2 linked regions of the Homo sapiens genome follow. The protein of the gene in region 2 interacts with the protein of the main gene of each other region in a pairwise test. Each region holds a gene or a part of one and is shown on either strand. Other genes may lie near its edges. The genes, in order: KLHL2 and TMA16.

Evidence for each region.
Region 1: the proteins of TMA16 (region 2) and KLHL2 interact in binary tests that used the Homo sapiens proteins (3 or more experiments, as listed by UniProt).

What each region holds. Positions count from the first base shown.
Region 1 is NC_000004.12:165,208,065-165,220,132, reverse strand, and holds part of KLHL2 (kelch-like protein 2), read right to left. Parts: intron 10,115-12,068; exon of another isoform or gene 9,991-10,114; coding exon of another isoform or gene 9,953-9,990; intron 2,109-9,952; coding exon of another isoform or gene 1,918-2,108; intron 490-1,917; exon of another isoform or gene 411-489; intron 200-410; coding exon 74-199; intron 1-73. UniProt on the Homo sapiens protein: Substrate-specific adapter of a BCR (BTB-CUL3-RBX1) E3 ubiquitin ligase complex that mediates the ubiquitination of target proteins, such as NPTXR, WNK1, WNK3 and WNK4, leading most often to their proteasomal degradation.
Region 2 is NC_000004.12:163,485,620-163,498,286, reverse strand, and holds the start of TMA16 (translation machinery-associated protein 16), read right to left. Parts: upstream 3,598-12,667; 5' UTR 3,486-3,597; coding exon 3,483-3,485; exon of another isoform or gene 3,391-3,482; intron 3,126-3,390; exon of another isoform or gene 3,063-3,125; intron 1-3,062. UniProt on the Homo sapiens protein: Involved in the biogenesis of the 60S ribosomal subunit in the nucleus.

The sequences.
Region 1 (12,068 bases), 1.7 Mb from region 2:
ATATATTCACTACAAACAACTGAAAAATAAAGGGACGAAACCAATGGTTGCATGTACATTAGTATAATGATACCTTCTTAATTCGTTCATGACTTTGAAAGCTTTCTTCATATGCCAAGGATTCACTGTCACTGGGCAGTGTTTTTCGGTATTATCATCTTTTGAATCGAGAGGCTTCTGATGACCCTGCTTTGTGCATCTGTACATAAAAGAAAAGAACAAAAACAGAAAAAGATCTTATTAAAGATCATTTAGTTCAGCTTATCAAGCTACAAGAGAGACAATGAATGTCTCCTTCCCCTACTTATTTAGAGGAAGTCTCATGGACAGAATATCCCAATGTAAGGTTAAGACAATTAAGAACAGTTTCTGATGGACACTATGGTTTCAATTAAAAAGTGGGTAATTACCTCCCTGGTGTCCAAGTTCCGTCAAAGATCAACACAGAATATTCAGCAGAAGTGGCTTAGCAGATATCTCCAAATAAAACTGTTGAGAAATGATCTTCTCCATTGGAAATTAACTTGCTTTTACAAACTTCTATAGTCATACGTTATTAACAAACCAAGACAGAGCAGGATCATATTTTACACAAACTTCAGAAACTTAGAATCTGATTTAAATTTTGCTCTCTACCTGCCAGGATATATTAACCCCATATATTTTGACCTATACTAACAAGAGATTAATCGAGATTAATCATGTTAGTTAATAGTTATTGAGTATTTACCATATGGCAGCCCTGTGCTGAGTAGTTTACTTTCATTATTTGGTTAATCCTCACAACAACTCTCTGAGCAAATTACTATTATTATCCCCATTTAACAGATGAAGAGAATAGTTTGAGTAACGGGGTAAATGGTAGGGCTGGGTAAGAGTATGGCCAGTCTGATTCTCCATCTTGTTCTTTTCACTAATATTTCAATACCATTTCCTACACTGAACAGTGAATATTTAAATTTACATTTTTTAAGCACACAAGGCTATACTAGCATTGCTACATGAATTATTCTTTCAAGACTTAGGACATAAAATTAACCAAAAAAATCAGGGTCCCATGAGGAGGGGGGCAAGAATTAACTGCAAATTAATGAACACAAGACAACTTTTTGAAGCAATGGTTATAAAACTTTATAAATTTAATAAAAATCATTAGATTGCACAATTATAATGGGTGGATTTATGGTATGTAAATTATACCTCAATAAAGCTATTACATAAAAAATCAGGGCACCAATTTTTTAACTAGGCTTAAAAAATGAAGTCTAAAAATATCATACTTGTATATATATCAAAGAACAAGCAAACATCATTATTAATTGCTGCACTTCTCTTCCTTTCCTGACCCATTTCTAAAAGGATGATTCATTTTTAAACATTATCGTTCATTAATTCATTCAGCAATTGTTTTTAGTACCAACCATGTACCAATCACTACTCTTAAGGCACTTGGAATATATCAGTGAATAAAACAAAGATCCCTGTCCTCATAGAGCTTGGAGTCTGGTGGGGGGAAAGGGAAAGACAGCACAAGTCAGGGAAGCAACTGGCATGTTGGGAAATGGTGTTATGGAAGTAGAAAAAGCAGGGCAGCGTGAAGAGAGAGAGAAATGTGGGGACGGTGGAGGGGTGTAATCTGCAGTAAATAGGGTGCTCAGGGAAGGCCTAGTTGAGAACTGAGATTTGAACAAAAGACTAGGGGGTGTGGGAACATCCGGATGGAAGTAGTAACTACAGCAAAGGCCAATATGTACCTGGTATGTTCCAGGAACTGTGACCCATGCAGCTTTGGCAAAAGGCTGGGGCTGAGCAGGAGAGGGGAGTGCAGATCACAAAGGGCCTTTTAGGATATCCTAAGGCCTTTCACTTTGAGTGAAATGAGGAGACACTGCAAAAGAGTGATACAATCCGACTTACGTTTTCCAAAGACCACTTTGGCTGCTGGTTGAGAACACTCTACACGGGTCAAAGATGAAAAGGGGGCAACTATTTAGCAGGATATTACAATAATTCACTAAAAAATGACAGTGGCTTAGGGAGGACAGTCGCAGTGGAGGTGATGAAAACTGGCTGGGTTCTGGACATTTTGAAGATACAGCCAACGAGATCTGTTGAAACAACCATATGACATGTCAAAGAAAGTCAGAATGACTCCAAGTCTTTTGGCCTGAACAAGAGAAAGGACTGAGTTTCTGTTCATTGAGATGAAGAAGGCTGCAGGTGGAAACTGTTTGAGATAGGCAGAGATCAAGAGCTGTTTTTATACCTAATGGTTTTAAAACATCAGACATCCAAGTGAAGGCATCAAATCACCAGATAAATATTGGAGTCTAGAGCTGGAGAGAAAAGTTTAGCTGGAGTCAGAAATGTGGGAATCACTGGTTACATGGATGGTACACGAAGCCATGAAACAGGTACTCAACATGAATATAACCTCTAAAATTAAGCAAACCCCAAACCCCAGAATCAGCACTAGTTGAAGCACCTGACTCTCTGAGGGCTTGCCTACTACAAGTGCACATCAGTTCTACTTCCTCACCGCTTGAGAGTTTTTAAGGGGCCTAACAAATGAATTAGCGCAAGGCTTTACCTCCACAGGGAAAGCCTACAGCTGAAGTGGGAGAATAAGGAGGTGCCACTCTACTCCCTATGCCCTCTTGAAGGTGTGTGTGTAGGGAATTAGTTACACCCAGTCTAAGAAAGGAAAAGCACTGATAAGTCTAGAAGCCAAAAAGATGGCAGAACATTCACGTCTGGAGGGAGAGAACTGGAGAAACACTTTATAGTATAAGACAGATATTCTCATTCTACCTGTAAAGGAAACAGTAAGAAACCAGGGAAAGGGGAAAATGCGTAGATATATGCAACCCATGCAAACTTTCTAACCATGTAACACTGCATGTCTATATACGATAGCAAGGTAATACTTATTCTATATTTGCTTCTAGTTTAATAATTTAGAAGGTGCAACAAAGGAAGAATGTTATACTGAGGATTAGCAAAACTATCATAAAAGAATTTTCAATGCTTGAAAGTGGAAGCAAAAGCAACTCTGCCCCAGAAAGAATGTCATGATTTAAGAGTCAGGAGTGTTTATATTTGCTTAAGAACTTAGGAATTAAAATTCCCTGCATTGGAGAATTCACTTTAAGACAGTTGCCATACAACAATCAATGCCCACATTGGTGCTCTCTTAAACCTATTTTCAGCTCCTCCTTTTTCTGATGTACTACAGAAACCCTGCAAAGAAGACTTTATTCAAAGGCTTAAAGGAATAAGTAAGAAAAAACACTGAATTTTGTTAAGTGTTCTCTGTACCGAGAGTCACTTACAAATACATCACCCCTTCTGCAAACGTCCATTTTCAAAACGAATGCCCTTTCCATAAATTTCCATTCCCTGTGTGGCTTTGTGTTAGATGGCTTCTCATTCAGAAGCAGAACAGAAAATGATGCATAATGTCTAAAACTATAGATGTGAGACATATATACATATACATACTAGGAATAACTAGTTAAGTGAGAGGTAAAGGTTTACCCTTTAGGTTGTACCACATTAAATGAAGAATTACACCTTTGCCCTGCTTCTCTTCTGAAGCAAAGTGCTAGCCTTTTCCAGAAAAGCTTCTCATTCTGAGAACTGTCTCCCTTAAAATACCTGAAGAAGATATTTTTCCAAGTTCCTTTCACCTTTAAGTCTTTATGCAACTCTTAGACTCCTCAAGTAGTCTGGCAATTATCCAATAGCCTATTGTTATCAACACATACTCTAAAATAGTTGAGGTTTCCCAGGGTTTGGATCCCAGTGTACTGCTATGTTTTATCATAGATATCCTAAAGCCTTCCTTCAGTGACTGACTTCTGCAAATTCCCAGCTGTGGACACAGGTGGCTTCTCAGATGAGGTGACTTTCTGACTCTGCCTAAGAATACACTATTGATGATAACTGAATTCTCAGACAGGAAGAAAACAAAGACTCTAACAGGGCTGTCTCTCTCAAATAGTCAAGATTTCCAAACCAGGCAAAGGTTTAAACCTGCTGTAACAATTCTGAGAACACCACAGAAATGAAGTAAAACTTCTTTAGATATTTATTATTGGCTTTGAAACAATGGTTTTCAGCAGCGTGAAAGAGAAAGATCAGAATCACCCAAGCAATTTTTTCAAGCCACAAATAACCACCCCTTCTCACATGAAGAGTCACACAAGCCCTTTTTAGAATTAGCTATACATACATGATGGCATCTCCAGGAGTATAGGAGAAAGCCAGCAATGCGTGATTTTTAAAAATAATAATAATAACAAAAGTCATGTAATATGTCCTGCCACCAACTTACCTCCCACCTCAGAATCATCCCAGATTAAAAACAAATGCTTTAGAAAATATGTTGTATTTTTAGAAAAAAAAAATGCAACCATTCATGTGAATGATGCAGCTGCAAAGTTTAACAGGAGATCAAAGACATTTTGACATTTAGGACATAAATACTTGGCCCTTGGGTGGCCACCATCACTGTTCTCCCCTTTGCCTGTTCACCTCAAAAGCTGCAAGACTCCCCTGCTTGCAATGAGTCACCCACCATTACTCACAAATTTCTGCCAAGTTCACGTCAGCAGCTGTTGTTTTCAAAGTCAACATCCATGCTGTAATGTTTTGAGGTTTCTCCATTACTTTATAATATTTCTTCTATTTCTCTGCTGTCTTCCCAGCCAAACTTGCATTCAGAAGCAGGCATCTTACTAGCATTGCTCTCATAAACAAATCCAGGATATCAGAAGTACAGAGTCAACCATAACTAACATTTTAACTAAAATTTGTTATGTCATTCTACAGTTTCTCAACAAAATACTCTCACATCCTTCAAACAAATAACCACTATATTACTTAGAGGCTGTGAAGGTAGAAGACTTTCTCAGTTGGAAACACGTTTGGGTCTATGGTAGGGTTGTGATTTCAATTTTTGCAGTTAGCTAAGGCAAAGAGACACACTGCAAATTTTCTTCACATGTCTGGAATTTAAACTTTTATTAGGTATGGAAACAGTAGACTAATCTACAAACATATGTTCATATTACCAAATAAATAGAGCTTTTTAAAAATGTTAACATTTGCCCTATAGACATGTAAGAACTTGGATTAGGTCTTCAGTATGTAGAACTGAATATGAGGTATCTTGTGAGATAAAAACTTCTATCTCTTTTTTCTTTGTATTACTTACTTCTCCAAGAAAAAAAAAAAACTTCTGATCTTGCATCAAGTCACAGAATGCCTTTCAGACAATATCATAATGCCATTGAATATTTTAAACATATATAGTTAAAAATTATTTTTCCAATTTTCCAGAGCTGAAAAGGAAACATCTAGAAAAGCTTGAATTGCCAAACTTTACTAAAATATATTAGCAGTTAAAAAGCAGAGCCCTGAACTCACTGAAGGGCAGAGGGAGGTATTAAAGAGCACCCTATTCTCTCTGGAGAACTCAGTTGTGCGGCTGTATGTTAAGTGTGTGGGGAAGCATTGGCAGGAGGAGGAGGTTGGGATGTCTGAGGTGGATGGAAGTTGGAGTATAATTGCTCTCTGATAGTAGAACAATGGAGCTGTAAAAAGCTCTGCTTCAGTTCAACTCAGCTTTCTCTCCCTCTTTCCCTCCCACCTACATGACAAACAGAACACAATCAGGCACTTTTTGTCCCTGACAGTGACTATTACCAGGAAAAGGACCACGGTAAAAGCATGTCTTATGCAAGATCAATCTCCTAAGGAATATTTTATAAATAACTAACAAAGCATTGTCAGAGTGGGATATTTGTGAGGTGCTAAAATAGGGAAAAGGAGGTTGATGATCCATTTCAAACATTTCCATTTATTTTATCACTTATATTTCTGACTTTTCCTTTGCCCCTCTTCCTACTATTGCCATCACTTCGTTGGTAAGGGGGCGGCAATACGACTCCGCAATTCAGTTGACTGGGATACATTTTCCAGCACTGAAATGAAAAGGTACTAGATGAGAACCAGAATCAGAAAGAAGCCCAAAATTGTAGTTCTGTCTATGCCAAATACTAACCAAGAGACCCTGGATTAGTCACTTAGCCTCTCTGGGCTTCAGACTACTTATAAAATTTATTTCACAAATATGTCTGATGTGAAATGTAATATGAAAGTCAAAGATAGTAATATCTCACCTACCTATCTCAGGGAGCTGTATAGGCACTAGGCACTATATGAATGTAAACAAAGTTTAGAAGAAAATTGTTGAATTCAGGATCTAAACTGAATATGCAGATATATTTTTATGGATCTTATTGGCCTTCATTTTTAATTGCAACATTCAATTCAAAGTTAATAGCAATATTCAAAATGACCAAAGCCAATAAATTAAGTATTTAAGTGCTGCCTAGATGCCCACTGCATGCCATGTACTAAGAAGGGTAAGAAACATTAGGAAGGCTGAATTGAGATCTTCCTCCATTTACCATCTAAACAGGAAGGTACATGGGAAACCACTAAGGAATGGCACAAGTCAGTACATAGGTGCAGTGACAAACACCATAGGAATGCAACGATGAGCTGGAATGAGTTGGAGTAAAGAGGAAAGACTTGGTGAAGGAGATGGGGCTCCAATGGGGCCTTGGAGGAACTTCAAGTTGTTGTAACAGGGGAGAGAAGAAGAGAAGCATAGGAAAAGGCTGGAGAATCCTGGCTTGTGGACAAGGGAGAGTTTTAAAAGCACATGATGATCTTGGATATATAGGATAAGATAAAATGATGAAAGGCTGTGACTGCCTGAGTCTCTGGTTTTGATAAGTCACTTCACATGACTCTAAGATGTTGGAGGGTTAAAACAGTGTGGGGACTGAAGGATGAGGAGAGAATACACAGAGCTCAATAGAAGACCAGTGAAAAAGTTCAGGTATCAAGTGATGAAATCCATTCATCAGAATAGTAGCAACCAGAATGGACACTTGAAACCAAGACCACAGTTCCTGGGGACTGATAAGATGTGGAGGATGAAGAAAGAGAGAGAAATCAAAGACTATTCCAATGCTTTGGTTATCAGGGACCAGAAGAATGGTTATCCCATTGAATAAGTGGAAATGTTATAAAATGAAGTCAGTTTGTGAACAAACATCAGTTTTGGATATATTGGGTTTAGAGGCATGAGCTAAGAGTAGAGATGTGAGAAGTTCAAAATTCCACACCAAAGCACAGACCTAGAGCCCCGACTTAAGATATAGATGGAGCTAGAGCTCAATGATTAACAGGTGATTGAAAAGAACTGGCCAAGGCCTACTTCCGTGAGGAAATACTGCCCACAAGCAGTGATAGAAGAGAAGTCATGCAAGACAGAAAAAAGTGATACAACAGAGAGATTAGAATCCCACTTTTTCTAATACTTGATAAGCTTGAGAGAGTAACTTAAACTCTACTTCTTCATCTGATAAATAAGACACCTACCACTATAAGGTTGTTGACAAGACTAAGTGAGATTAAGTGATAAAGTATGCAAATCACATTTAGCAACCTAAAAACCAGAGTAGGAAAACAAGAAAAAGAGCTATCATAAAAAGCAGGGGCTTGTTTTTCAAGGTAAAATCAGAGAATGGAACTGGTCAAAGGAATATTTTAGCAAATGCCAATAGTCTGAAATGTAAGAAAGTACAGTGCGTAACACACAAAAAGTTACGGACCCACTCACTGCAGCAATTATCTCATCAGGGGAAGAATTCAAGAATGCCTTTGTGCTTGCTATTCTCTCTCCCTGGAATGCTATTCCCCCTCTGGATTGTGCTAAAATATCACCTCGTCAAAGACACCCTGACCCTATCTGAACTATTATTCTTATTATTCTCTACCCTTTTATCCTGCTTCATTTTTGTTTACTGTAATACTACTAACAATATTACATATTTGTTTGCTATTAGTTTCAATCATAGGAAAAGGAACTTTGTTTTCTGAGATATCCCCAAAATCTGGCCATAGTAGGCACTCAATAAATATAAATTAAAAACTCAAACTACCTCATCATAAAGAGTAAATGCATTTGGATTTGGTAGAACACTACAGAAATGCAACATAAAGTGAATTTCCTTCTCTGGATCACCTTGAAAAAACCTGCCTGATCTTAAGAAAGAAGTTCAGTGGTCTTCATAAGCACTACTAGTGTAAATCCGTAACAGCCATAGATGAGTAAACTTACAGTCACCTTCAGAAAAGCACATTTACTAATAGTTACTGCATGCCTACCATGTACATCAGAAACAAAAGGTTTGGGGCATTTTGCAGGGAGTAGGTGGAGTGATTTCCCAGCATCAGAAATTTTTTAAACTACTACATAAATGCTACCTATTTCCAGAATTCACTTCTCAAGTTCCCAAATGCACCTCAAAGTTGTCTCTATATGTAACACTTCCTTCAACACACATTGATCCACATGTCTTCTTTCACCATTACCTTGTTTGTGGGCCATTATTACTCCTAAATATTTTAAATGTCTTTGTCTATCACTGGGGAGATTCACCTGTGATATGAGAGATGCCCAATGTACATTTAGTTAAACAAAAATAAGAATACACTCCAATGCACTATAACAGACAAACAAATGAATACTGGGTATCCTGTAGCAAGGTTCCAAATTCACAGCAATTGAATCTTAGAAAGAACATTAAAGGTCATCCGGTCCAGCGGACTGCAAATGTCAGGCTTCAGTGAACTTTTTACTGATCTATGTCAAAATGAGGACAATGTAATAAGTTTTCATAAGGCTAAGTTTTTTAAATTTAAAGACAATCCTTTAGTCAGATTATATTCTTCCTTATATTTGAGGAAGGATACTAAAATGTTTTTTTCTTTCATAAAAAGATGGTGATAGTTGATCATTGTTGTTTCATAAATAATTCTTTTACTTAGCAAAACAAAAAACTTAGCAATTGTTAGACTTCAATTGTTTTTTTCTTTTTTTAATTTTACAGGTCAGTTAAATTCAAAAATGTGAGAACCTCTGCTCTAATCCAACCAATTTTCTGCTGCCTAAATGCCTTAGAACATGGTCAACAAGTTGTTTTTCTGCCTATGCATGACCACCTCTGACGACAAGTCTCTAGTAATGTGGAACCATCAACTGAAAAAAGATATGGTTCTATCTGAGGGATGTTTGCTTAGTTTTGTGAAGGAAAAGCAAAAAAATCAAGGCTTACAGAGAGTAAGCCGACTTGTGAAAATGGAGCCAGTAAAAAAACAAGTGCCAAGAAGACTGATCAGTAAGAGAAGATCAGAGGGATGCACTCAGGCCTATACCTCACAGTCTTCCTTCAACTTATTATGAAAATCCTTTATACAAATAACTATAAAAGCCAGACTGTAAAATACATTCCTGAGGTCAGGGCTGGTCAATTTACATTTCCTTTTGCACATCTCAGTTTACCATCTGAAATTCCTTTACTAATCTACATCTAAACTACATCTCTCAATTTACTACCTGAAATTCCTTTACTAAGCTACATCTTTTAGTTACACATCTTTCAGGTTTGATCAGAAGCAAATGTAACACAGTCTCAATATCACCCAGACCCAGAATGCAACAGAATCTAAATGCCACATATACTCAAGTATGCAAAAAACAATAAGCACAAATATATAGTCCAACGACAATTTTTAATTATATGAGAATTAAAAAGGATGAAAGTTGGAGGCAAGGAATAGAAAAAGCACAAAAGATCAAAAGCTAATTTCAAGGAGTCCATCCTGAAGGAACCAGGAATGGTGGGTACAGATGCCTGACCTCCCTCCAAGACAATGTGCCAACAGGCCAGTGGAGAACAAGGTGGGATCTGAGAACAATGTAAATTTGGATGTTAAAAGAGAACACAAGCAAAAGCACCACGCACAGTGCCAGGCAGAGACAGGCATTCAAATATTTGCACATTGAATGAATTAATAAACAGACACTTACACAAAGAGAATCTGGGGCCGTGCTTCCAACCATACCATAAGGCACTTTAAGTCCAGGTCATCTTTCTTTGACTTAAAGCTCAGGCTAAAAATCTAACTTCATGAAAAGCTGAGTCTTCCTAATAGTTTCCACTGGCCTCTGTTCTAGCCCAGCTCTGGCAGTGAGGCCCGGTAAAGTTCCTTCCTAAAGACACTGCCTGCAAGTCTCAAATCCGGCACACGGGATCCATGGTGGAGGGATGTTAATGGGAGTGGAGGCAAACAGGCCAAGGGGTGGCAAGGAAAAAAACTATTTCTGATCCACAGAATGGCAAATAACACCATAACGAGTTCTTGAATTAGGTTTAATCCTGGACAGAACCAAATGAAAATAAAAACCTACTTGTATTTATAATTAAATAGACAGAAACAATGAAAAAGTCTCACCAACTTTAGCCACCCCTGATTGAAAGGAGTTTTAACAATTCTTTCATCCATGCTGGCATTCCAAGTTTTCCATTATATCTCAGCCTCTCATTGTTCCAGCACTATTGATGGAATCTCAATGCCAAAAATGGCGCTGGTCATCAAAATTATGATTAGCTGATCTACCCTAGAGTCAGTTTATCAATGTTTCAATGCATACATCAATTCTATTTTTTATTATTTCAATTTAAATCATCTGTGTCTCTATTCCCTCCCTCCCTCCAGAGGCTGCTTTCCCACACCCTTCTTTTCACCTGCATTCTAAGTATTCCCTTGTTCTTTCCTTTAGCTCCCTCTGTTCCAAAAGTAAAAACGAACTGCAGGAACTTATGTAGAAGGCAGGTTTACTACAGATAGCATACCTACATGTTACATATTATATACCATATGTTGGCTAAATACAGCTAGCATATCCTGCTTTAAGTGCTTCTGAGCCTGGGCAGACCCCCGTGTGCTCATGCTGCTGATGTGAACCATCCACCATCATATTTCCTAGGGGTTCAGGTGCCTTCCTCCAGCCTGCTGAAGAACATGACCAAATCTCAGAGCCCTCAAAGCCACAGCTATCGAGAGGTGACTAAGCCCCTGCTTCTGTCAGCCCAGGAAGGCCAATTCAAGAGTCTTATCTACCCCCTAGATTTCCACGACCTGTTCCACTCAAGCTAAAAATTCTGAAACGCACTTTTAGAAACTGTCGTTCCAGAATCCCATTAGCTCTCCTAAAAGGGCTGAACATCAAAAAATTATTCAACCCAAGCCAAGTATCCTTATTTTGGCTGGAATTCTGCCAAATAACCACAAGAGACTGGTGCGGTACAATCGGCATGGAGTGAAGCTTGCCAAATTTGACCGGAGAACGACAAGCCTCCATGAATAAGCTCTCATGAAAAGGTAAACCATTCTTCAGGATGAGGTTTGTCTGCGATTTGAAAAGTCAGATTCAAAGGACTCTTGTTCCTTCCTAAGAGAAGAGGGAACCAAAATTGAAATTTTCGAAACTCCTGGGTATTTACAGTTCACTTTTACCAAGATGTTTTTAAAACTAAAAACTAAAATTTAAAAAAAAAACCCTTGTTCTGAATAATGCAATAATGTCTTCTACATAATGTTTCAGCTATTATTTCTAGAAAGTAATTCTGTTGCCAGTGATCTTGAATGTACTTGGGTACCAAAGAAAAAAGACACCTGTGCCTGGCAGGTCGATACGCTACTAATTTGCCCGAGGTACGAACGAAACAGAAGATGCTGATTTCTGGATAAAACGTTCTGCAGTGCCAGGTAAAAGAGGTCACATGCCCTGAACGGCCGCCGCTCATTTAGAGTGATGCAAAAGCTCCTCAGATATTAATTTTGTTAGAAATTCGGGGAATCAAGCAACCTAAGATCAATTCATTTAGACAGCGGGTGACTGGTACTTTCCAGTTTCCTTTTTTCAACGGACTCAGTGCATCCTAGCCTGATCTCTTATAAAGGGGTAGGCAAACTCGGCACCAGGTGCCCATGCATTTCAGGGAGGTACACACAGGACCTGCAGGGTCACCCATGCACAGCCCCACCCCGAATCTTCTATCCGCCCGAGATGGGGAAGACCCTTCCCCAGAAATCCTGGGCAGCGTTTTAAGTCACCGCCTGGCCAGGCTGAGTTTCCGTCC
Region 2 (12,667 bases):
TCTTTTAACCAAGAAATTCTATTAATTTATTCTACAGACATATTTACACGTGTACCAAAGGGGGGATAAATAATCAATGCAGCAGTATTGCAATGTCTGTGGTAGCAAAAGAATGTAAACAATTTAAAGGTCTATCACAGATCGGGTTAAGTAAGTTACAGAAGCAAACAATGGAATATTCACTGTTTAAAAAGCAAGAAGTGGATCTATATGTACTTACATAGATCTATAAGATCAGGTAAGACAAAAAAGCAAGGGACTAAGGTGTCCAGTATACCATTTATGTAAAAAGAAAGGTTAGGGAACATACATATATGCTGGTACATACATATAAAGTATCTGAATTGATAGCTAAGAAACTGTTAACAGTGGCTGTTTCTCAAGTGAACCAGGGCATTAGGCAAGAGAGCTGGAAAAAGTCTTTTTGTGGCAGACGCAATAATGCTCTGCCCTCCTCCGACCAAAAGATATCCACGCCCTGATTCCTCCAGAACCTGGGAATATATTACCATATATGACAAAAAGGACTTGCAGATGTGATTAAGATCTTGAGATGGGGAAAATTATCCAGGTGGGCCCAACATAATCCTAAAGGTCCATGTAAGAGGAAGGCAGGAGGATCACTGTCAGAGAAAATGTAACCTTCTCTGGGGGAAAATTTAAAGATGCCATGCTGCTGGATTTGAAGAGGGAAGGAGCCAAAGAATGTAGATGACCTCTAGAAACAGAAAAATTCATTAGAGCCCCTTAAAGAAAGACAGCCCTGACAAACACCTTAATTTTATCTCAGTTAAGACTCATTTTTGAACTTCTGACCTCCAGAGGTTTCAGGAAATGAATGTGTTGCTTTAAGCCACTAAATGCATATCACTTTACTATGGCAGTTAATAAGAAACTAATACAATTTTTATGAGAAACCATTTTTTAGTGTTTTAAACCATGTACAAGTAATATTGTCTCAAAAAGATTGGTATACTAGGTAGATTTCCATTAATGTTTTTCTTTAGTTTTACTAACTTTCAGGAGCAAGTTTTCACTAACAGATAATCTCTATGAGATGTATTAAGCTGATTTGTTGTTGTGGCTCACATTTATAGATGTAGTCCCCAAAACACACAATCTCTACCATTAAGGTAGTCAGTAACAGCTAATGCCCCACAGTAATGTGCATGGATAAATGCACGGAGGATGATGGCACACTTTTCAATGGTATATAGTCTAGCTAGGGAGGGAAAGAAGCACACACAAGCTCTATGACAGGTTTATATAAAAAGGAGTATACCCATGGGTGCCTAGTAGTATTGTATGAGCCATACTTAAAAATACTAAAATCCTGGCTGGGCACGGTGGCCCACACTTGTAATCACAGCACTTTGGGAGGCCAAGGCGGGTGGATCATTTGAGGTCAGGAGTTCGAGACCAGCCTGGCCAGTGTGGTGAAACCCTGTCTCATTTGAGGTCAGGGGTTCGAGACCAGCCTGGCCAATGTGGTGAAACCCTGTCTCTACTAAACATACAAAAATTAGCTGGGTGTGGTGGCTGGCACCTGTAACCCCAGCTACTCGGGAGGCTGAGGCAGGAGAATCACTTGAATCCAGGAGGCGGAGGTTGCAATGAGCCGCGATCATGCCACTGGACTCCACCCTGGGCAACAAGAGCAAAACACCGTCTCAAAAAAAAATAAAAAATAATAAACACTAAAAACCTTTTTAATGCAGCATAAAGAAGTGTTGAGTGGAATGGATTAATTTGAAAAGATTATTTATATATAACAGGTAAACTAAATTTTGATATAAAGATATGAACTTGCTAAGCTCCAGCAAAGATTTACAATAAGAGAACATTAATGAGCAAAGTAACAAGGATGAACAACTATAAGCTGTACACTGTTACTATTTATATAACTAAAGTTAATAACAATAACATTTACTAAGTGCCAGGCACTAGACTAAGCACTTTACATTTAATTTCCACAATTCTATGAGGTAGGTACTATTGTTATCCCAATTAAACAGATGGGAGGTTAAGTAATTTTGCCAAGATGGCAACTCAGGGAAAGACAGGTGCCCAACTCTGTCCTTTGGGACCACATTCTGAGCTGTACTGAAAGAGGATGCAGCAAAACCACTAATGAGGTTATATCAAAAAAAAATGACAGAGCCAGAAATGAGCCAATGAAAACAGGTTCATATGCCACTCTTTTGACTTCTATGCCAAAGCAACGTACTTCTACTATACAGCCTGATAAAAAGTGAAGCTCTGATAGTCAAGGACAACTACAGTCAAATACCAATCTATCTCCCCAATCACTCAAACACAATGAGATGTAATTGCTTTCATATTCCACTCTGAAAAGGGGAAAAAAACTAACACTATAAAGAGTTGGAAATCCCACAAGCAAAGTGACAAGCAAACACTGAATTTACACAAATGTGTACAATCTAAAGTACAAAATATGCGTCAGCAGTGGATCAAAATAAAGCACAAAAAACTCGCGAAACAACGAAAGAACCAGACTGTAAGACAAAAATGGCATACAATGAAAAGAGAAAAAAATGAAAAGAAACAAAGAGGCCACATTGTGGACACAATATCGTAACTTCTGACCAGATTATAAACTTTTAAAATTTTGCTTTTATTAAAAATTAATTGAAAAAAATTTATAAAGCATGTTTCTATGCAAGAATTACTCTCAAGAACACAACGATTACGTAAAAAATAGGCAAGAAACAACATACTGTTTCAAAATACAAATATATGTAGTAACTATAAAGAAAAGTAGTGAAATTATAAATACAAAACTTAGATAATGTTTGCTTCTTAAGGTTTCCTGAAAGTTCAAAGAAGGTAACACAGGGCTTTCAAAGGCTATGTTTTATTTCTTAAAACTACAAAATGGGTAAACGAGAATTCCTGAAACTGTTCATCTTTACACTTGAAATGTGCTTTAGTAACACTCTTTTGTATCTACTCAGTTTTTAATAAAAACAACAAAACTGCTTCAGTGCCCTGGAGCGAATGGGGGCGTAACGGCAGGATTCAGGGCACTAACGAGAGGTGAACGGACGCCGAGGAAGAGGCGACTAAGCCCACATACTGAGTCTACCCAGGCCAGAGAGGCAGAGGTGTGTAGGGCCAGCGATCTCAGAAGTTTTGCCAAACTCCTCGATGCGTTACAATGGAAAGGTGCCGGGTTTCCCCCAGGAAGTAGTGACTAGCGAGAAGTTAGGCACAAGGCAAAGAGGAGCAAGGCGACGTGTGAGCACTTCAGCACTCGGACGCGGAACTCTAAGGTCCAGGCGTTGGGCCTGGGACTCGCCTCCCAGAGGCTTCGCCCCGCACCCCGCACACTCCCTGAAAATAAACACTTTGCATCCTCCCCTCTCCTAGGTTCCCGAAACCGCACCCTCCCTCTCTGCCTGCTCAACAAGAGCCTTCCGGGGAACCAACCGAGCGGTTCGGGGGAGCAGGAGGGGGCCCACCATGGTGACGTCCTCGTGGCCACGGAGCAGCTCCGCACTCTAGACCCAGGTAATCTCACCAACCGCAGGAGCAGCAGCTCACAAGAGCACCCGGGCCGAATCCCACGTGGCGCCTGAGAAGCCCGCGCCGACCCAACCGGAACAGGAGAGGCGAGTGCGTTTCTCTAAAGCGTCCCCGTTAACTGAGACCGCGTCTTTTTCGCCCGTGTTGGGCTTTTAAGCTCTAGCCCAACGGACAGCCAGACCTGCGTGCTCGCCGGGAGCGGCGGAAGGGAGCTTGCGGCGGGAGGCTGAACTCTGCCTGGTGCTGAGTGCGAGGCTGGGGATTGGAGCCCGGGTGGAGACGCTACACGCTTCCGGCCCCAAGAGCGGAGCTTGCCCATCTGTCCCAGAGCACGACTCCAGAGCGCAGCAACCTCTTCAGACAAGAGGTTCCCTCTTGCGGGCTCCCGCATCTCAGGGGCTGGGACCCTCTCAAAAGGGCCGCTCGGTGTTGGCTCCCCGGAGCTCTTGCACGGCACAGGCTCCTGCCCTCCGCTTTTCCACGTACTAGATTACCTTGGGCAAGTCCTTTCCTGCACTGAGTCTTTTTTTGCCCTGCCCTGCCCTGCCCTGCCCTGCCCCGCCCCGCCCCTCTTCTCTTTCCTTTCTTTTCTTTTCTTCTTTCCCTCTTTCCCGCCTTCCCTCATTCCCTCTTTCTTTCTTCCTCCCGGGTTCAAGCGATTCTCCTGCCTCAGCCTCCCGAACAGCTGGAATTACAGGCCTCCGCCACCACGCCCGGCTAATTTTTTTTTTTTTTTTTTTTTTTTGTATTTTTAGTAGAGACGGGGTTTCGCCGTGTTGGCCAGGCTGGTCTCGAACTCCTGATCTCAGGTGATCCGTCCGCCTCGGCCTCCCAAAGTGCTGAGATTACAGGCCTGAGCCACCACGCCCGGCCGAGTCTTAGTTTCTTTATCCGGAAAGGCCACTTCCTCATATTCAAGGCCTCTGCCAACCCAGTTTTTGTTTTCTTCTCACAGCATGTGAGAGTCTTTGTTTCACCCATACATGTTAGAATTCCGTAGACAATGTAATCATTCAAAAACTATTTATTGAATGCCTACTGTGTGCCTGGTACTGGGGATACTCCAACAATATCCCTCACTCAGCTCATTTTCCAGGGGATGGAGGCATGTAAAAATATTATTTCAAATAATATAAGTACTCTAATAAAAATTAGCTGGCGGGGGCATGTAGAAAAGCTGTTTTACACATGGTGGTCTCTATAAAGTCCTCTTTTAGAAGTGATAATTGAGCAGAGACCGGAATTGTAAGAGAAAACTAGGCATGGGAAGAAGCTCCAGGCAGGGTGAAGCTGGTGTGCCTTGATATGTGTGTGCAGCTGTTAACAGTTGAGGGTAGTTGGCTAGGTCCTTGGCGTTTTGAACAAATAATTGGACAAAACACACAAATAAAGCAAGGCAGCGAAAGCAGAGATTTATTTTAAATGAAAGTACACTACTCCACTGCGTGGAAGCAGGCTGTGGCAAGCTGCTCAAAAGCACAGGTTGCAGAATTTTCTGGGGTTTAAATACCTTCTAGAGGTTTCCCATTGGTCTTCCACAAGTCTGATTGGTTGAGGAAGGGGACCAATCTGAGGCACTTTCATTTTTCAACTGCCACACAGAAAAAGAAGGGCTTGCAACTGCCAGGCAGCAACTGCCATGCAGAAAAAGGAGGGGTTGAAGGGGAGTAGTCTTTCAACTGATATCCCATCAGCACAAATCAGTCCTAGCTTCCCTGCTTCCAGACCCTATTCTCCTGCCGCACAAATACTTGTATTTAATCGACAGATATATCAATTTTTGGAAATAATTTAAATTGTAAACAAGAGTGTGTCCAGAAGATTCCTGAATCTAGGGGCAAGGTATTTTCACATGGCTTTTTTTGTGTGTGAATCTATGCAATGAAGGTCACCTTTGAATATATACTGTGGAGGCAGCACATTCATGCATCACTTAAGGACGGGGATACTTTCTGAGAAATATTTCAATGGGGGTTTTGTTGTTTGTTTTTTGTCATGTGAATATCATAGAGCACACTTACACAAGCCTGCATGGTATAGCTTACTACCCACCTAAGCTGTATGGTATAGCCCATTGCTCCTAGGCCACAAACCTGTACAGCATGTTACTCTACTGAATACTGTAGGCAATTGTAACACAATGGTAAGTACTTGTGTATCTAAACATAAGAAATGTACAGTAAAAATATAATCTCATGGGATCACCATTGTAATGCAGTCCATGACCAAAACATTGTTACATGCACATGACGGTACTCTGTGAAAGACTCCAATTAATCTAGAATATTTACACCCTAGCTCCATACTTTAGCCACTTCCTGTGAAGCCATCTTTCACCCACCCTACCCCATTCCCTAAGTCTGGCCCTGTGGAGATCACCCTCCTAAGTTCTATGTTACTGCAAATCTTTTAATTATTAAATTTTCCTTCTGGCTATTTTAGCTGTTACTGATTGCTCTATTGATCATAAAATTCCTACCTACTCCTAACCCATTCCTAAACTTCAAATTGCCAACAACTCAATAAACCATATATCTTGAAACTTTTATTTTTTATTTTTAGTTGAGTTTTAGAAATAAATCTTCATATTTTCCTCATTCAGATTCAACCCCTAAATAACATTGATTATAGACATGTTAAAAATATACTGTATATGTTCAAAATACACTGTAGCAAATACAAACATGAATTATACAGAGCAAGAATAAAGATAATAATGATGGCTAATGTTTTGTCATTGTTTAATATATGTATGCACCACTGTGATAAGCAAAATGAATCCCCCAACTTTTCCCCTCCCAATTCAACCTCCCCTTTGCCCCGTGCAATAACCACTGTAGATGATTTGGAGACATCTTTAGAGATATTTTCCTGTACTTTAACAAATATACTCAGATGTGTGTGTATGTGTGTGTTGTATGTATGTGTGAGGATTAAGTATTGATTAACATTAGGTATTGATACAATAAGTACAAATGCATAATTCTAGTGTCACAACTAAAAGAATAGAAACAGGGTACCTAACTTTGTACAGGCTACACACAAGTAGAGAAAATAAAATAAATGGAATGATTAAAATATACTCAGGTAATTCCAACTAAGAAAATAAAGGAGAAAACATGAAACATAAGACAGGAAAACAAAAAAAAATATGGCAGTAGATTTAAATCCATAAAACAGTAATTACGAAATAACTGCCCCCAACTAAAAAAAAGTCAGATTGTATTGAAAACATCCAACTGTATCCTGTTTATAAGACACATCTAAGGTACACGAAAATAGAAAAATAAATGGAAAGAGTTATGCTAGGTGAATGCTAACTGAAACAATCCTGGTATACATATATCAATGTTATACGAAATAGACTTTAGGTCAAAAAGTAATATGGTATATATAAAAGATCACTTCATAATGATAAAAAGTTTCCATTTTAAATTCATGTGCATCTAGTAACACAGCCCCAAAATATATAATGGAAAAGCCGATGCAGTTTCAAGTTGAAAAACCAACAGCCTTGGTGGAAATTTTAGCATGCCATTTTTCAGTAAATAATAGAACAAACAGATAAACAATCACCAATGACTGAGAAGACTTGACCACAACAAAATTTGACCTAACAAATCTACACAGAATAGTGCTTCCAGTTCTTACAAGAATACGTGTGTTCTTAAATACGTATGGTATAGTTAACAACATTGATCACACATTAGGTCAGAAAGCAAGTCTAAACAAATCTGAAAGGATTTAAATCTATAGAATATGTTCTCTGACCACCTCATAATTAAACTAGAAACCAATAACAAGGAGACAACTAGAGAATTGTCATATATTGAGAAATTTAAAAATTGTGCTTTGAAATAAGTCAGGAACTAAAGAAGTCATAATGAGAATTAGAAAATAGTTTGGGCTGAACAATAACAAAAACAATAAATATCCAAACTAGTGGGATGCACCTGAAGTAATAATTAGCTCCATTCATGTAAATATTAGAGGCTTCAGTATAAATATTAGAAAAGAAGAAAGACTGAACATTAAGAACTAGCCATCCATATGTCAAGAGGTTAGGGAAAAAAAAAAACCAACAAAATAAGGTCAAAAAAGGAGGTAGAATAGAATAAAAAGCATAAACTATTGAAACAAGGACAAAAACCTACGTAATTGAGGACCGGGAGAGCCAAAGGTGTTTTTTTTTAAATTTTTTAAGAATAATAAAATATTTTCCTATGTTAAAATTACAGGCCTAGATTTTTGTAAAATACACCCAGGTGCAGTGGCTCACGTCTGTAATCCCAGCACTTTGGGAGGCCAAGGTAGGCAGATCACTTGAGGTCAGGAGTTCGGAGTGTGAGACCAGCCTGGCCATCATGGTGAAACCCTGTCTCTACTGAAAATACAAAAATCAGCTAGGCATGGTGCTGCATGCTTGTAACCCCAGCTACTTGGGAGGCTGAGGTGGGAGGATTGCTTGAACCTGGGAGGTGGAGGTTGCAGTGAGTGGAGATCCTGCCACTGCACTCCAACCTGGGTAACAGAGTGACTCCATCTCAAAAGAAAGAAAGAAGAGACGGAGAGAAGGGACAGAAAGCAGAAAGAAAAAGAAAGAAAGGAGAAAGAGAAGAAAAGGAAGGAAGGAAGGGAGGGAGGGAGAGAGGGAGACAAGGAGGGAGAGAGGGCAGGCAACATTGTCTTATTCCTGACTTCAAAGAGCCAACTTTTGTTTAACAATTTTGGAAAACAGTTAGGCATTACCTAAAAGTTAAAATGTGTACATTTTCTAAGGCAGCAGTGTCATTCCTGGGTATATACCATAGACTAACTCTGGCACATTTCTCTCAGGGTACATATACAAGAATAGCAGTAGTGTTATTTGTAATAACAGTGTTGTGTGGTAAATTTTAGATAGCAATGAAATGAACAAAGGACAAGTACACTAAACCAGTTGGATAAATTTTTATCATAATGTAAAGGAAGCAGTGCACAAAAAAATATATACAGTATAATCCCATTTATATAAAATTTAAAATCAGGCAAAATGGATTACATTTTTTACAGATACTTTTATAGGTGGCCAGCAATATTCTTCACCTCTGTGGTGGTTACCTTGGTGTTTGCTTTATAATTACTCTTTCTTTTTCACGTTTCCATTTTGTGCACTTTTATGTTTATATGCCACACTTCACAATGCAATATGTTAAATTTTTTTAACCACAAATATATTAGTTCATATTCTCTTGGAGAATGTGAGTCCAATATTCCTATTGTGAAGTTGCATCTTAAATTTCATTCCTTTGTGAGTGGTTTAGCTTTGCGGAATTGTTTAATAATATCTGCTGTCTTTGCTCTTCTTCAATTTTACTTTATGTTTCTAGGTATTGGTATTTTGTTACATACATCTTTGGTAATCTGTGGCCTCTTTCAATTTGCTTTTGGAATTTATACTATCTGGGCATTGATAATACTATCCTCCCTAACTTTTATTGCCCCCTTTTCATTTTTATGTTTTGTATTTTCCATCTCTTTATTTATTTCTGCTGCCCTAGGGAGAGTTTCTATTGATCTTCCGATTTACTATTTTCTGTTTTTTTTGTTTTTGTTTTTTGTTTTTTGTTTTTTTGAGACGGAGTCTCGCTCTGTTGCCCAGGCTGGAGTGCAGCGGTGCGATCTTGGCTCACTACAAGCTCCACCTCCCGGGTTCACACCATTCTCCTGCCTCAGCCTCCCGAGTAGCTGGGACTACAGGCACCCGCCACCATGCCCGGCTAATTTTTTGTATTTTTTAGTAGAGATGGGGTTTCACCGTGTTGGCCAGGACGGTCTCAATCTCCTGACCTCATGATCTGCCCACCTCAGCCTCCCAAAGTGCTGGGATTACAGGCGTGAGCCACCACGCCTGGCCCTGATTTACTATTTTCTTATTTGATGTAATCATCTTGCTGTATATCCCACCTATTGTCATCTTCATTTTAACTATCTCATTTTTAAAATAAATATTTACAATTTTTAAAAGTAATTTCTTATTTCTTTGTTCTATCATCAATATCCTTCCTTAACTCTTGCAGATATATATGGTGCTTGCTTATTGGTCCATCTCTTCCAATAAATCTGCTTCATGTGGTATGTGTTATTCAGTGTGCTTCAAGTTTCTTTTATTATAAGTTCTCCTCAGGTACTGATATAGTTTGGCTCTGTGTCCCCACCCAAATATCGTCTTGAATTGTAGTCCCCACATGTCAAGGGAGGGACTTGGTGGGAGGTGATTGGATCACGGGGGCAGTTCCCCCATCCTGTTCTTGTGATAGTGAGGAAGTTCTCATGAGATCTGGTTGTTTGATAAGTGTCCAGCATTTCCCCTGCTCTCTTTCTTGCCACCATGTAAGAAGTGCCTTGCTTCTCCTTTGCCTTCTGCCAAGTTTCCTTGGCATATATGGCATATAGGGCTCCCTATATGCCTCCTGTATAGCCTGTGGAAGTGTGAGTCAATTAAACCTCTTTTGTTTATAAATTACCCAGTCTCAGGTAGTATCTTTATAGCAGTATGAGAACAGACTAATACAGAGAACTGATACCAAGGTAGTGGGGCATTTCTATAAGATACCTGAGAATGTGGAAGCGACTTTGGAACTGGGTAACCAGCAGAGGTTGGAACAGTTTGGAGGGCTCAGAAGAAGACAGAAAGATGAGGGAAAGTTTGGAACTTCCTAGAGGCTTGTTGACCAAAATACTGATAGTAATATGGACAATGAAGTCCAGGCTGAAGTGGTCTCAGAAGGAGATGAGGAACTTATTGGGAACTGAAGCAAAGGTCACCCTTGCTATGCTTTAGCAAAGATACTAGTAGCATTTTGCCCCTGCCCTAGAGATCTGTGGAACTTTGAACTTGAGAGAGATGATATAGGGTATTTGATGGAAGAAGTTTCTAAACAGCAAAGCATTCAAGAGGTGACCTGGCTTATTCTGAAAAGCATTCAGTTATACGCATTCACAAAGAGATGGTTTGAAATTGGAACTTATGTTTAAAAGTGAAACAGAGTATAAAGGTTTGGAAAATTTGCAGCCTGCCCATGTGGTAGAAAAGAAAAACTCATTTTCTGGGGAGGAATTCAAGCCAGCTGCAGAAATTTGCATAAGTAACTAGAAGCTGAATGTTTTAATAGCCAAGACAATGGGGAAAATGTCTCCAGAACATGTCAGAAAATTCATTGCAGCCCCTCCCATCACAGGCCCAGAGGGTGAGGAGGGAAAAATGGCTTTGTGTGCCTGGCCCAGGACTCCTCTGCTCTGTGCAGCTTCAGGACATGCTGCCCTGCATCTCAGCTGCTTCAGTTGTAGCCATGGCTAAAAGGGGCCAAGGTAGAGTTTGGGCCATTGCTTTAGAGGGTGCAAGCCCTTAGCTTTGGCAGCTTCCATGTGGTGTTGGGTCTGTGGGTACTCAGAAGACAAGAGTTAAGGTTTGGGAACCTCTGCCTAGATTTCAGAGGATGTGTGGAAATGCCTAGATGTCCAGGCAGAAGTCTGCTGCAGGGGCAGAACCCTCATGGAGAACCTCTGCTAGAGCAATGCAGAAGGGAAATATGGAGTTGGAGCCCCCACACAGATTCCCCACTGGGGCACTGCCTAGTGATGCTGTGAGAAGAGGGTCACCATCCACCAGACACCAGAAAGGTAGATCCACTGACAGCTTGCACTGTGCTCCTGGAAAAGCTGCAGGCACTCAACACCAGTTTGTGAAAGCAGCCACAGAAGCTGTACACTGCCTTGCATCATGTTTTATATTTTGTATTTATGTTTTGTATTTTCCATCTCTATATTCAAAGGAGATTTTGGAGCTTTAAGATTTAATGACTGCCCAGCTGGGTATCGGAATATCAGACTTGCAAGGGGCCTGTAGCCTCTTTATTTTGGCCAATTTCTCCCATTTGGAATGAGAACATTTACCCAATGCCTGTACCCCCACTTTATATTGGATGTAACTAACTTGCTTTTGATTTTACATGCTCGTAGGTGGAAGGGACTTGCTTAGTCTCAGATGAGACTTTGGACTTGGATTTTTGAGATTATGCTGGAATCAGTTAAGACTTCAGGGAACTGTTTGGAAAGCATAATTGGTTTTGAAATGTGAAAATAACATGAGATTTGGGAGGGGCCAGCAGTGGAATGTTATCATTTGGCTCTGTGTCCCCACCCAAATCTAATCTCAAATTGTAATCCCCACATGTTAAGGGAGGGACCTGGTGGGAGGTGATTGGATCGTGGGGGCAGTTTCCCCTATGTTGCTCTTGTGATAGTGAGGGAATTCTCATAAGACATGGTTATTTGATAAGTGTCTGTCATTTCCTATGCTTGCTGTCTCTCTCTCCTGCCACCATGTCAGATGTGCCTTGCTTCCCTTCACCTTCTGCCATGATCATAAATTTCCTGAGGCTTCTTCAGCCATGCGGAAGTGTGAGTCAATTAAACTTCTTTTGTTTATAAATTACCCAGTTTCCGGTAGTATCTTTATAGCAGTGTGAAAATGGACTAATATAGGTACCTAGTTTCTTTGAACCTGTAGCATCACATTAATTTACTGATGAAATCAGCTATACTGCTCTGTGTTGTCTATTAGGGAAGTGCTCAAAGACACATTCTCAACTGAATCCTTTTTTGAGAATTTGAGGAAAGCAGAAGGGTTAAGTTTCAGAGGAGAGAGCTCCAGGGACCAATAACCTCTGCTGACAGGAGTTGGAGGCCTGAACATTCCAGGGTACAATTCATCCTAGTCCTATTTCTATCAGCTCCTTATTAGCCTGGCCTTGTGCTCCTCTGGTAGTGCTTCACAACACTGGGAGGGCAGCAAAGCTTCCCAGGTGAAGTACGGGAGACAAGAGCTAAGATTATATATGACCTCCCCAGAGCCTCCCAAGCTTCCAGGGACATCCTCCTCCCCATGTGACTGCTGTGCTCTTCGGCTGCCTCCCTCCCTTCTAGTCACTAGTTCCCTTCTTCCCAGGGGTTTCTCACAGTCTTCATTTACTTCCAACAGCCAATTTCTTCCTGTTTCTGTAGTTTTCAAGGTTGATTTTGGAGACAGCTGTGCTAATTTATCATTTTTCTTATTTCTAGGAGTCCTGATTATACTTAT